Linked DNA regions of Homo sapiens: region 2 is linked to region 1. The links come from fine-mapping of genetic effects on gene expression. A gene starts in region 1. The other region holds a variant in brackets. All regions are shown on one strand. Distances are from middle to middle.

What was found. PIP is the estimated chance that this variant, and not a neighbour inherited with it, causes the effect.
Region 2: its variant is the best candidate, but not a certain one, in a credible set for the expression of STMN3 in fibroblasts (GTEx, PIP 0.66).

The regions. Positions count from the first base shown.
Region 1 is chr20:63,651,570-63,655,943 of GRCh38, forward strand. STMN3 (stathmin 3) reads right to left here and starts at 1,855. Exons shown (of 5, transcript NM_015894.4): 1 at 1,758-1,855. The coding sequence starts at 1,776. RefSeq lists enhancers at 1-558, 1,835-2,514, 2,515-3,193 and silencers at 1,533-1,622, 1,643-1,692.
Region 2 is chr20:63,674,099-63,678,472 of GRCh38, forward strand. It overlaps RTEL1 (regulator of telomere elongation helicase 1), which reads left to right. Exons shown (of 35, transcript NM_001283009.2): 11 at 4,047-4,085; 12 at 4,170-4,248. RTEL1-TNFRSF6B (RTEL1-TNFRSF6B readthrough (NMD candidate)) reads left to right here. Exons shown (of 38, transcript NR_037882.1): 11 at 4,047-4,085; 12 at 4,170-4,248. It overlaps LOC124904954 (a long non-coding RNA gene), which reads right to left and starts at 4,277. Exons shown (of 2, transcript XR_007067717.1): 1 at 3,546-4,277. RefSeq lists an enhancer at 2,415-2,559 and a cis regulatory region at 2,487. The variant A/G (reference allele first, on the strand shown) is at 2,066.

The sequences.
Region 1 (4,374 bases):
TGGGCAGGAAACTCAGAAATGTGGCTACCACAGTCAGGCTGCTTGACGTGCGGTGAGCACTCATCTCTTAGCAGGCAAGCGGCCAAGCACCTTTCCTGAAATATTGAGGCCTCAGAACAAGCCCCAGGAGAGGTGCCAGCACCGTCATCTCTACCCAGATAAGGAGACCCAGGTCCTGAGAGGTTAGGCAGCTCGGACAACACCACACAGCTGGAGGAGGTCAGACTCTGGGTTGCAGAAGGAGAATGTGAGCAGAGGCCACAAAAGAGCGAGGAGCCAGTGCCCAGATGCCGAGATGCCCTCGCCCTCCCAGCTCAGCCCCAGGAACCGAGCCCATGGGGAGGGACCGTCAGGGAAAGGCTGTCAGGAAGGGCAGGAGGCGGCCCTGGAGAGGACGGCGCTGCCCTCAGGGGCAGGAGGGGAGTCCCCTCCGCTGAGAGCCCCCCCACCCCCAGTATCCCCGGGGGTGTCCAGGAGGAGGCGGAGGGAGGAAGCGCAGATGGACAGGACTCCCAGATAGGGTGGGGAGGTGTGGCCGGTGACACACACGGTCCCCTCCTGGCAGGTGCTGAAGTCACCTGGAGCCTCCAAGCCCGTGGGGCCTGAGGGGCGGGGTCAGGTCGGGCACGCGTGGGTGGGCGGAGTTCTGCGCCCCGGGCCAAGGCGCCCGAGTTGAACCAGTCAGCTCGGGAGAGGGACCGCGGCGACCTGTCCCGGGGGCGTAAGAAAAGGTGGGAGGGAGTGCGGCTCGTGAACGGGGGCGGCGATGGGAAGGAGGTGCGGCCCTTCGTCCTGTCCTCCCAAACGTCGAGTGAAAAACGAAGCGGGTTCTGCGGCCTCGCGGCGGAGCAGAGCGTTTCGGGAAGGGCGGGCCCAGCGTCCTCGCGCCCGAGGTCGCCCGGCAGCTCCCCTGCGTCCAGAATCCGCCCCCCGCCCGGGCCTGCGCCCGCCCCTCCGCCTGAGCTCCGCGCGGGACGGGCCGGGAGGCCGGGGTGGGCGCTACCTTCGAAGGCGGTGGGTCCGCCCCGCGGGAGGTGGAGGGGCGGGAGGGGCGGAGCCCTCTGGTCTCCGGAGGGTTTGGGGATCGCAGTCGCCCCTCCCCCATCCAGACCCCGCGGCGCAAAGGGCAGTGGCTTTTCTGGCCAGAGCAGGTGGCGCGGGCGTCGCAAAGGGTGGTCCCCGAGGCCGCAGCGGTGTGGGGGGAGGGCGCGGTCCCCCTCACTCCGGGCTCCGCCGTGTCTGGCCCGCCCCCCTCCTTCAGCGCCCCCTCCAGCCCCTGTGCTGCACTGGCGCGGGGAGCGCCGGGTTCCCGGCTGGGGCTTTGGCAGAGGGTCCCACCCTCTCCCCGCCTCCCCACGAAGGCTCTGGCGGACCCAGATCTCGGGTCGCCGGACGCCCCAGGGACCCCGCCCGCACATCGCGAGCGCGCCCACCCGGTCGCGAGCCCACGCCCGGGTCTGGGAGCCACCCTGCGGCAGTCGCGCCCTGCGTGGCACGCTGCTCCCCCAGGGGCGAGGCGCCCCCGCCCGACGTCCCGGTCCCGAGCGCTCCCCGGCGCGGCGCCTCGCAGCCCAGCGCCCCACCAGCCCCGCCGGCGCCGCAGACCCCAGCCTCGGGCGGGTCGGGCCCAGGCTTGCAACGCGCAGGGTAGGAGAAGGGAAATTGGCGTCCGCTGCCGGCCGCTGCCCCAGGCGAGGCCAGACGAGGCCTCTGCTCAGATCCCGCCGCCCCACAAAGCCCGTGGCCCCGGAGCCTACCGGAAATGGTGCTGGCCATGGTGCTGGCGGCGGTTGGGCCTGCGGAGGCTGGAGAGGCGCAAGTGGCGGCCGGAGCTGCAGACGGCTGGTGCTGCAGTGCCGGGGAGGGGAGGGGAGAGGAGTGGAGGGAGCGAGGGCGGGCGGGAGGCGGGCGCGGCGGGAGAGAGAGAGGGAGGGAGACAGAGGGAGAGAGAGAGAGGGTTGGGGGAAGGAGCGGGGGGAGGAGGGAGGGAGGGTTGGGGGAAGGAGAGAGAGAGAGAGAGAGACTGCGGGGGCGGGGGAAGGAGGGAGGGAGGAAGGGAGGGAGGAAGAGAGAGAGGAGCAAGCGCCTGGCTGCGGAAGGGGCCGCGGCTCTCAGGGGGAGAGGGCGGAGGAGGGGGGCTACCCGAACTGCAACAAGACCCCCCACCCTCCAACCGCTCACAGCGGGACAGCTGCTTCTCCAACTTGGCTTTGTGAGGCCTGAGAGTGGGGTGGGGGTGGAGATGAGCCCCCATTCCCCAGGGCAGGCGGGGCAGGGGCAATGCCGGAGGAGCAGGTCCCACCCATGGGGTGGGGCCGCAGAGCTCTTCGCCGCCAAGGCCGCTGTAGGCTGGGCTGGCGCCAACAGGGTCCAGGTCTGTGCCTGCCATCGGAGAGGATGCCACAGCCACAGGGGTGGGCGCTGGCCTGGAGGCCTCCAAGGGGCATCTCCTGTGAGCCCAGGGGATGGGCAGGATCTGAGCGGAGAAGAGTGAAAGTGGAGGAGTGAGGCCAGAACAAAGGCTTTGCCGTGAAAGAGGTGGTTTCCCGCCTGGGCTCAGACCTTCACTCACTGTGTGGCCCAGGCCAAGGGCAAGCGTCTGACCTCGCTGGGCCTTTGTTTCTCAGGGGTAAGATGAAACAATGATGCCCCCAGACGATGGAGAGGAGGGGTGCCAGGGTTGTGCGCACTTAGTGAGTGGGGGGCAACCTATCCTGCCTCCCCCTCTCCTCATAACTCCCAAAGGGAAAGCCTGGTAGGCAAACGGAGCGTCTTTGCCATTGCAGGGATGAAGCCACCGAGGCAGGGAGAAAAGTGCTTTGCCCTACAAGCAACTAAGTCATAGGGCCAGGAGCAAAACCCTGAAAACCTCAGGAGACTTGCAGAGCCATGAGGCTGGCTCAGCAACACAAAAGCCAGGGGCAAGCCTCAGCTCTAGCAGTGCGGTGGGAGCACCCAAGGCCAGTCACATCCTAGGGTGGCCTGGAGAGTCCTGACCCCTGACGTGCAAGCCGGCATCATCCCCGGGACTGTGAGTCTGGTGGGGGTGATGCCCAGGAATGTGACATTGTGTGGCCCAGAGGTACCCTTAAGACTGGAGGATCACCAGGCGGGCCCTGACCTCATCACAGGAGCCCTTTAAAAGCAGTTTCCTTTGCCTGGTTGAAGAAATCGGAGGGATCAAACCAAAGAAGGTTTTCTGTTGTTGAGATGAGGGGGCCACGTGGCAAGGATCTGAGAACTGCTCCCAGCCAACAGCCAGCAAGACAACAAGACCTTAACTGCAAGGAAGTGAGTTCTGCCAACAAGAAGAGAATGGGCTTGGAGGCAGGTTTGACCCCAGGGCCTCCACACAAGAACTGAGCCCAACTGCCCACTTGGTTTCAGCCTTGGGTTACTAAGAATTAGGAGGTAATGAATGAGAGTTGTTTTAAGCTGTTGGTTTTGTGGTGATTTGCTATGAAGCCATATCAAACTAATATACACACAGAGGTGTTGGCCCCTGGGCCATTCCTAGGAAGCCAGCTCTGCGAAGGAGGAAGAAGGGCAGAGAGGCACACAGAGCTGCCCACCACAGCAGCTGTGTCCTCCCTGTTGGCCACCACAGTAGCAGTTGGGGATGGTCAGCATCCTTCAGGCAGACTCCAGCCCCGGGTGCTGGAGCTCAGGTGCTAGGGATCAAGAGAAGTAGCCCTCTCTGGGACCTCCAGAGTCTTCTCATGTGGGTGGGGTAGGACCCACCCAGTCAGGCTCAGAGCACCGCAATGCCTCACACTCATTGTGACTCTGGCCAGGCCCTCTCTGAGCCTCTGTGTCCTCATCTGGAGCACAGGGACCAGGTGTGTGGAAGCCCGTGGCATAGTGCCAGGAACACAGTAGATGTGCACAGTGTGCACTAGCAGGAACACACAACAGGGGTACTGACTGTCAGCACCTAGGCAGGCACACGCAATGGGGTACTGACTGTCAGCCATACTGACTGTCAGCGTGCTAGCAGGCATACACAACAGCTGTACTGACAGCACACTAGCAGGCACATGCCATAGGTGTACTGACTCTCAGTGCACTGGCAGGCACACGCAATAGGAGTAATGACAGCATGCTGGCAGGCACACAATAGCTGTACTGACTGTTTGCCCCAATATAGTGCCAGGTCTTGGAGCAGATTTTGACTTCTCACCAAGATCAAATGCAGAAAGTGCACGAGCATTTCAAAGATGTTTTTCACATGCACATTAGTGCTAGTTAAAAAAATGTTTTGACTGGGTGCAGTGGCTCACAACTGTAATCCCAACACTTTGGGGGGCCGAGGTGGGCAGATCACCTGAGGTCAGGAGTTTGAGACCAGCCTGGCCAACATGGTGAAACCCCATC
Region 2 (4,374 bases), 23 kb after region 1:
TTCATAGCCAGACTGCTTGGTCCTGAGGCCTGCGCTGCTGCAGGGTGAGCCCCACCCGGAGTTCAGCACGGACTCCCCCAGCCCAGGTGCGTTCATAGCCAGGCTGCTTGGTCCTGAGGCCCGTGCTACTGCAGTGGGCAGCCTGCCCTGTGGCTGTGTGTGGTCGGCCTGGGCACCATCTATTCAGGCTGGCACTGCAGGGCATCCGCTTCTCTCAGAGGCTTCTTGGGTGTGAATTCTTCAGGGTCCTGTAGCCTGTGGAAGGGCTGGTATTGTTCAGTAGTTCTGGTATTTTCCAAAGACCTATGTCTTCTCCCAGCCAGTATCAACTTGGCCTCTACTGTGTAAAACTGGAAAACTCTACTTTGTGAAGCTGAGTTGGGAGCATCGCTTGAGGCCAGGAGTTTGAGACCAGCCTGGGCAACATGGCGGAACCTCGCCCCTGCCAAAAAATTAGCCAGGTGTGGTGGTGTGCTCCTGTGGTCCAAGCTTTTCCGGAGGCCGAAGTGGGAGGCGTGCTTGAGCCTGGGAGGCAGAGCTTCCGGTGCCCCAGATGACTCCACTGCACTCCAGCCTGGGCGGCAGAGTGAGGCCATCTCAAAAAAAAAAAAAAGGAAAACTAAATATATTCACTGTAAGGGCATTTTGCATCTTTAAATGACCCACAAATCTGGCATGCATCAGCTGCTCTGCCTGTAGGTTCCTTCCCAGTGTTTGTCCAGAGGTGTATTTCCACACAGCGCTAGTCACGGCATACGTGGAAAACGTGGAAACCCTTCATGGATGTTGTCAGTTGGTCTATATTTTCTTTCTTTTTTTTTTTTTTGAGATGGAGTTTCACTTTTGTTGCCCAGGCTGGAGTGCAATGGCGCGATCTTGGCTCACTGCAACCTCCGCCTCCTGGGTTCAAGCAATTCTCCTGCCTCAGCCTCCCAAGTAGCTGGGATCACAGGCGTGCACCACCACGCCCAGCTAATTTTGTATTTTTAGTAGAGATGGTTTCTCCGTGTTGGCCAGGCTGGTCTCGAACTCCTGACCTCACGTGATCCACCCGCTTCGGCCTCCCAAAGTGCTGGGATTACAGGCGTGAGCCGCCACGCCCGGCCTTTGTCCATATTTTCTACATGGCTTCTGTAAACAGCTGACTAGGAGTCTGTGTGAATATCTTCATAGGTTCTGCTGTGACACTACTTGCTCGTGAGCATCTCCAGGTGTAAACAGCATCAGCTTCCCCCATTTTCCTTTAAAATCGCACATGTGGACGGACACCACGGGGACCCTGGACCCTGGGGAGCCCCGTCCTCACCCTTCTCACCAGGATGGCTGCTTGGTAGAGAGTGAGTTTGCAAAGTTGGCATTTGTTTAGTACAGAAGTTATCAGGTGTTCTGGCTTTAGAATCCCTTTATATATATATATATATACATATATTTAAGTGACAGGGTCTCACTCTGTTGCCCAGGCTGGAATGTGGTGGTACAATCAAAGTTCCCTGTAGCCTCGGCCTCCTGGGCTCATGGGATCTTCCCGTCTCAGCGTCTTAAAGCGCCGGGACCACAGGTGTGCACCACTGCCACCGGCTCTCAAGATTGCCACGCAGGGAGTTGCAGTGGGGGAAGGGGTTCCTGGGACTTTGAACGCTCCACCTCCCTCCTCTCCACAGTCCCCCAACCCCACCTCTCTAACGGGGTGGACGGCCGCCTCTTTCCATCCTTCGCTTGGCGCAGGGTGGGGAGAGTGACAGGTCTCCTTCCCTCATCTCGGCAGCTGCCATTTCATCGCTTACATAACGTGGGAGAAACATCCACCCACCCCCAGGCCTGTGTGAACATCACCACGGGGCCTTCTCCACTCTTCAGTTTTGTTAGTTACTTGATGTGCAGGGCTTTTTGTTGTAACTAGTGGGGGACGTGTGGTGGGGTGGGCTTCTGCCATCTCATTCAGGACCAGAACTTCAGTTTTCATCCCTATCTGTTCCCCCACCCCTTTGGAGATGGGGTCTCACTCTGTCACCCAGGCTGGAGAGCGGTGGTGCCATCACGGCTCACTGCAGCCTCCACCTCCTGC[A/G]GCCTCCACCTCTTGGGCTCAAGTGATCCTCCTGCCTCGGCCTCCCAAGCTCCTGGGACTACAGGCGTGTGCCACTGTGCTTGGCAGGGTCCATTCTTTTCCTCACACTTTATTTATTGAAGAGCCCAGGCCGTTTACCCTGCAGAGTCGGAATCTGTACAGGAGGGGCAGCCACACGAGTTCCCCGGTTTACTCTGAACTTAGGTGGCTTGAGGGCCCCAGTTAGACTGCGGCCACCGTTTGCCGGGCTCCAGATGGGACGTCCTTTCTATCAGAAGGCTCACAGTATCTCCTTTCCCGTTTCTTCCCATGTGAACATTGTTGCTGCTGAACACCTGAATATGTTAATCACTGGGGGCTTGCAAGATGGCAGTGTGCTAATTCCATCATCTAGTCAGTTAGCAGGAATAACTTAGGACCACGCCCTGCACCATATCAGCTATGTGGTGATCCCATTCACACAGGAAAGGTGGGACAAATGCTGGGGGTGGGCCGGGTGTGCTGTCTCACACCTGTCATCCCAGCACTTTGGGAGGCCCAGGCAGGCGGATCACGAGGTCAGAGATTGAGACCATCCTGGCCAACACGGTGAAACCCCGTCTCTACTAAAAATACAAAAAAATTAGCCAGGTGTGGTGGTGCATGCTTGTAATCCCAGCTACTTGGGAGGCTGAGGCAGGAGAATCACTTGAACCCAGGAGGCGGAGGTTGCAGTGAGCCGAGATCGCACCATTGCACTCCAGCCTGGCGACAGAGCGAGACTCCGTCTCAAAAATCAATCAGTCAATCAAGTGTCATCACTGAATGTTTGTGTGTGAACGTGGGGATTGGTCCTGCCCCATGCTCCCTCCTGAATCTCACTCCTGACCTCAGTTGCTGCACCTTGAGGTGTTTTCATGTGGGCTCTTGTGTCCTGACCCCGGCGGTTGTGGCCTCTTTGCTGTCTGGGAGTCAGGATTTTTCACACTCATGTCCTGCTCCAGACCTGGAATCAGCCAAGTCTCCAAGAAGCCCTGCTTTCTTTTCCTGCAAGACGGTATTTCAAGACCCGCCATGCGGCAGCGGGTTGGTCATGGTTACTGGGTTGGTCGTTGTTACTGGGTGTTTTCGTGGAGATACAGCCATACGCACAGGTGTGTTCACAAATGTTAATTCTAAAGGTCAAACACCCGGCCAGGCATAAGGGCTCAGCGGTAATCCCAGCACTTTGGGAGACCAAGACTGGTGGATCACCTGAGGTCAGGAGTTTAAGACCAGCCTGAGCAACAGGGTGAAACCCCATCTCTACTAAAAATGCGAAAATTAGCCGGGCATGGTGGCGCACACCTATAGTCCCAGCTAGTCGGGAGACAGACACGAGAATTGCTTGAACCTGGGACATGGAGGTTGCAGTGAGCAGAGATGGCGCTGCTGCACCCCTGCCTGGGTGACAGAGTGACACCCTGTCTCAAAAATGAATAGATAAATAAAGATAAAACACCTGCTCCTCTTGGTGTCTCCAGTTTGGATTTGGCCTGTGTAGCCTCTTCCTTCGCCTGTTGGTGGATTTGGCCTGCACGGATTCTGTGTGGCCTCTTCCTTCCCCTGTTGGTGGATTTGGCCTGCACGGATTCTGTGTGGCCTCTTCCTTCCCCTGTTGGTGGATTTGGCCTGCACGGATTCTGTGTGGCCTCTTCCTTCCCCTGTTGGTGGATTTGGCCTGCACGGATTCTGTGTGGCCTCTTCCTTCCCCTGTTGGTGGATTTGGCCTGCACGGATTCTGTGTGGCCTCTTCCTTCCCCTGTTGGTGGATTTGGCCTGCACGGATTCTGTGTGGCCTCTTCCTTCCCATGTTGGTGGATTTGGCCTGCATGGATTCTGTGTGGCCTCTTCCTTTCCATGTTGGTGTCCTTTTTTCCATGCCAGGAATCCTGGTTCTCAAGGGCGGGGTTGTTGGCACGAGCGTGATGCAGACTGCCTTTGCTGCCTTTCTCTTGCCCAGGGCTGAACATGGAGCTGGAAGACATTGCAAAGCTGAAGAGTAAGTGTTGCCCTCCCCGCCTCCTTGCAGCTGGGTGGGGCCTCCTCCTTGCGAGGAGGTGGGTGACACCTCCTCGACCCACAGTGATCCTGCTGCGCCTGGAGGGGGCCATCGATGCTGTTGAGCTGCCTGGAGACGACAGCGGTGTCACCAAGCCAGGGAGGTGAGAGGCGGGGAGCCAGCCCCTTCACTGCAGGCCCAGCCTAGAGCTAGAAACGGGCCATGGTGCAGTCCTGGGCTGTCACATCACGAGTGAGGCCTGTTTTCAGGCCTGTTTTCCCTTTTTGAG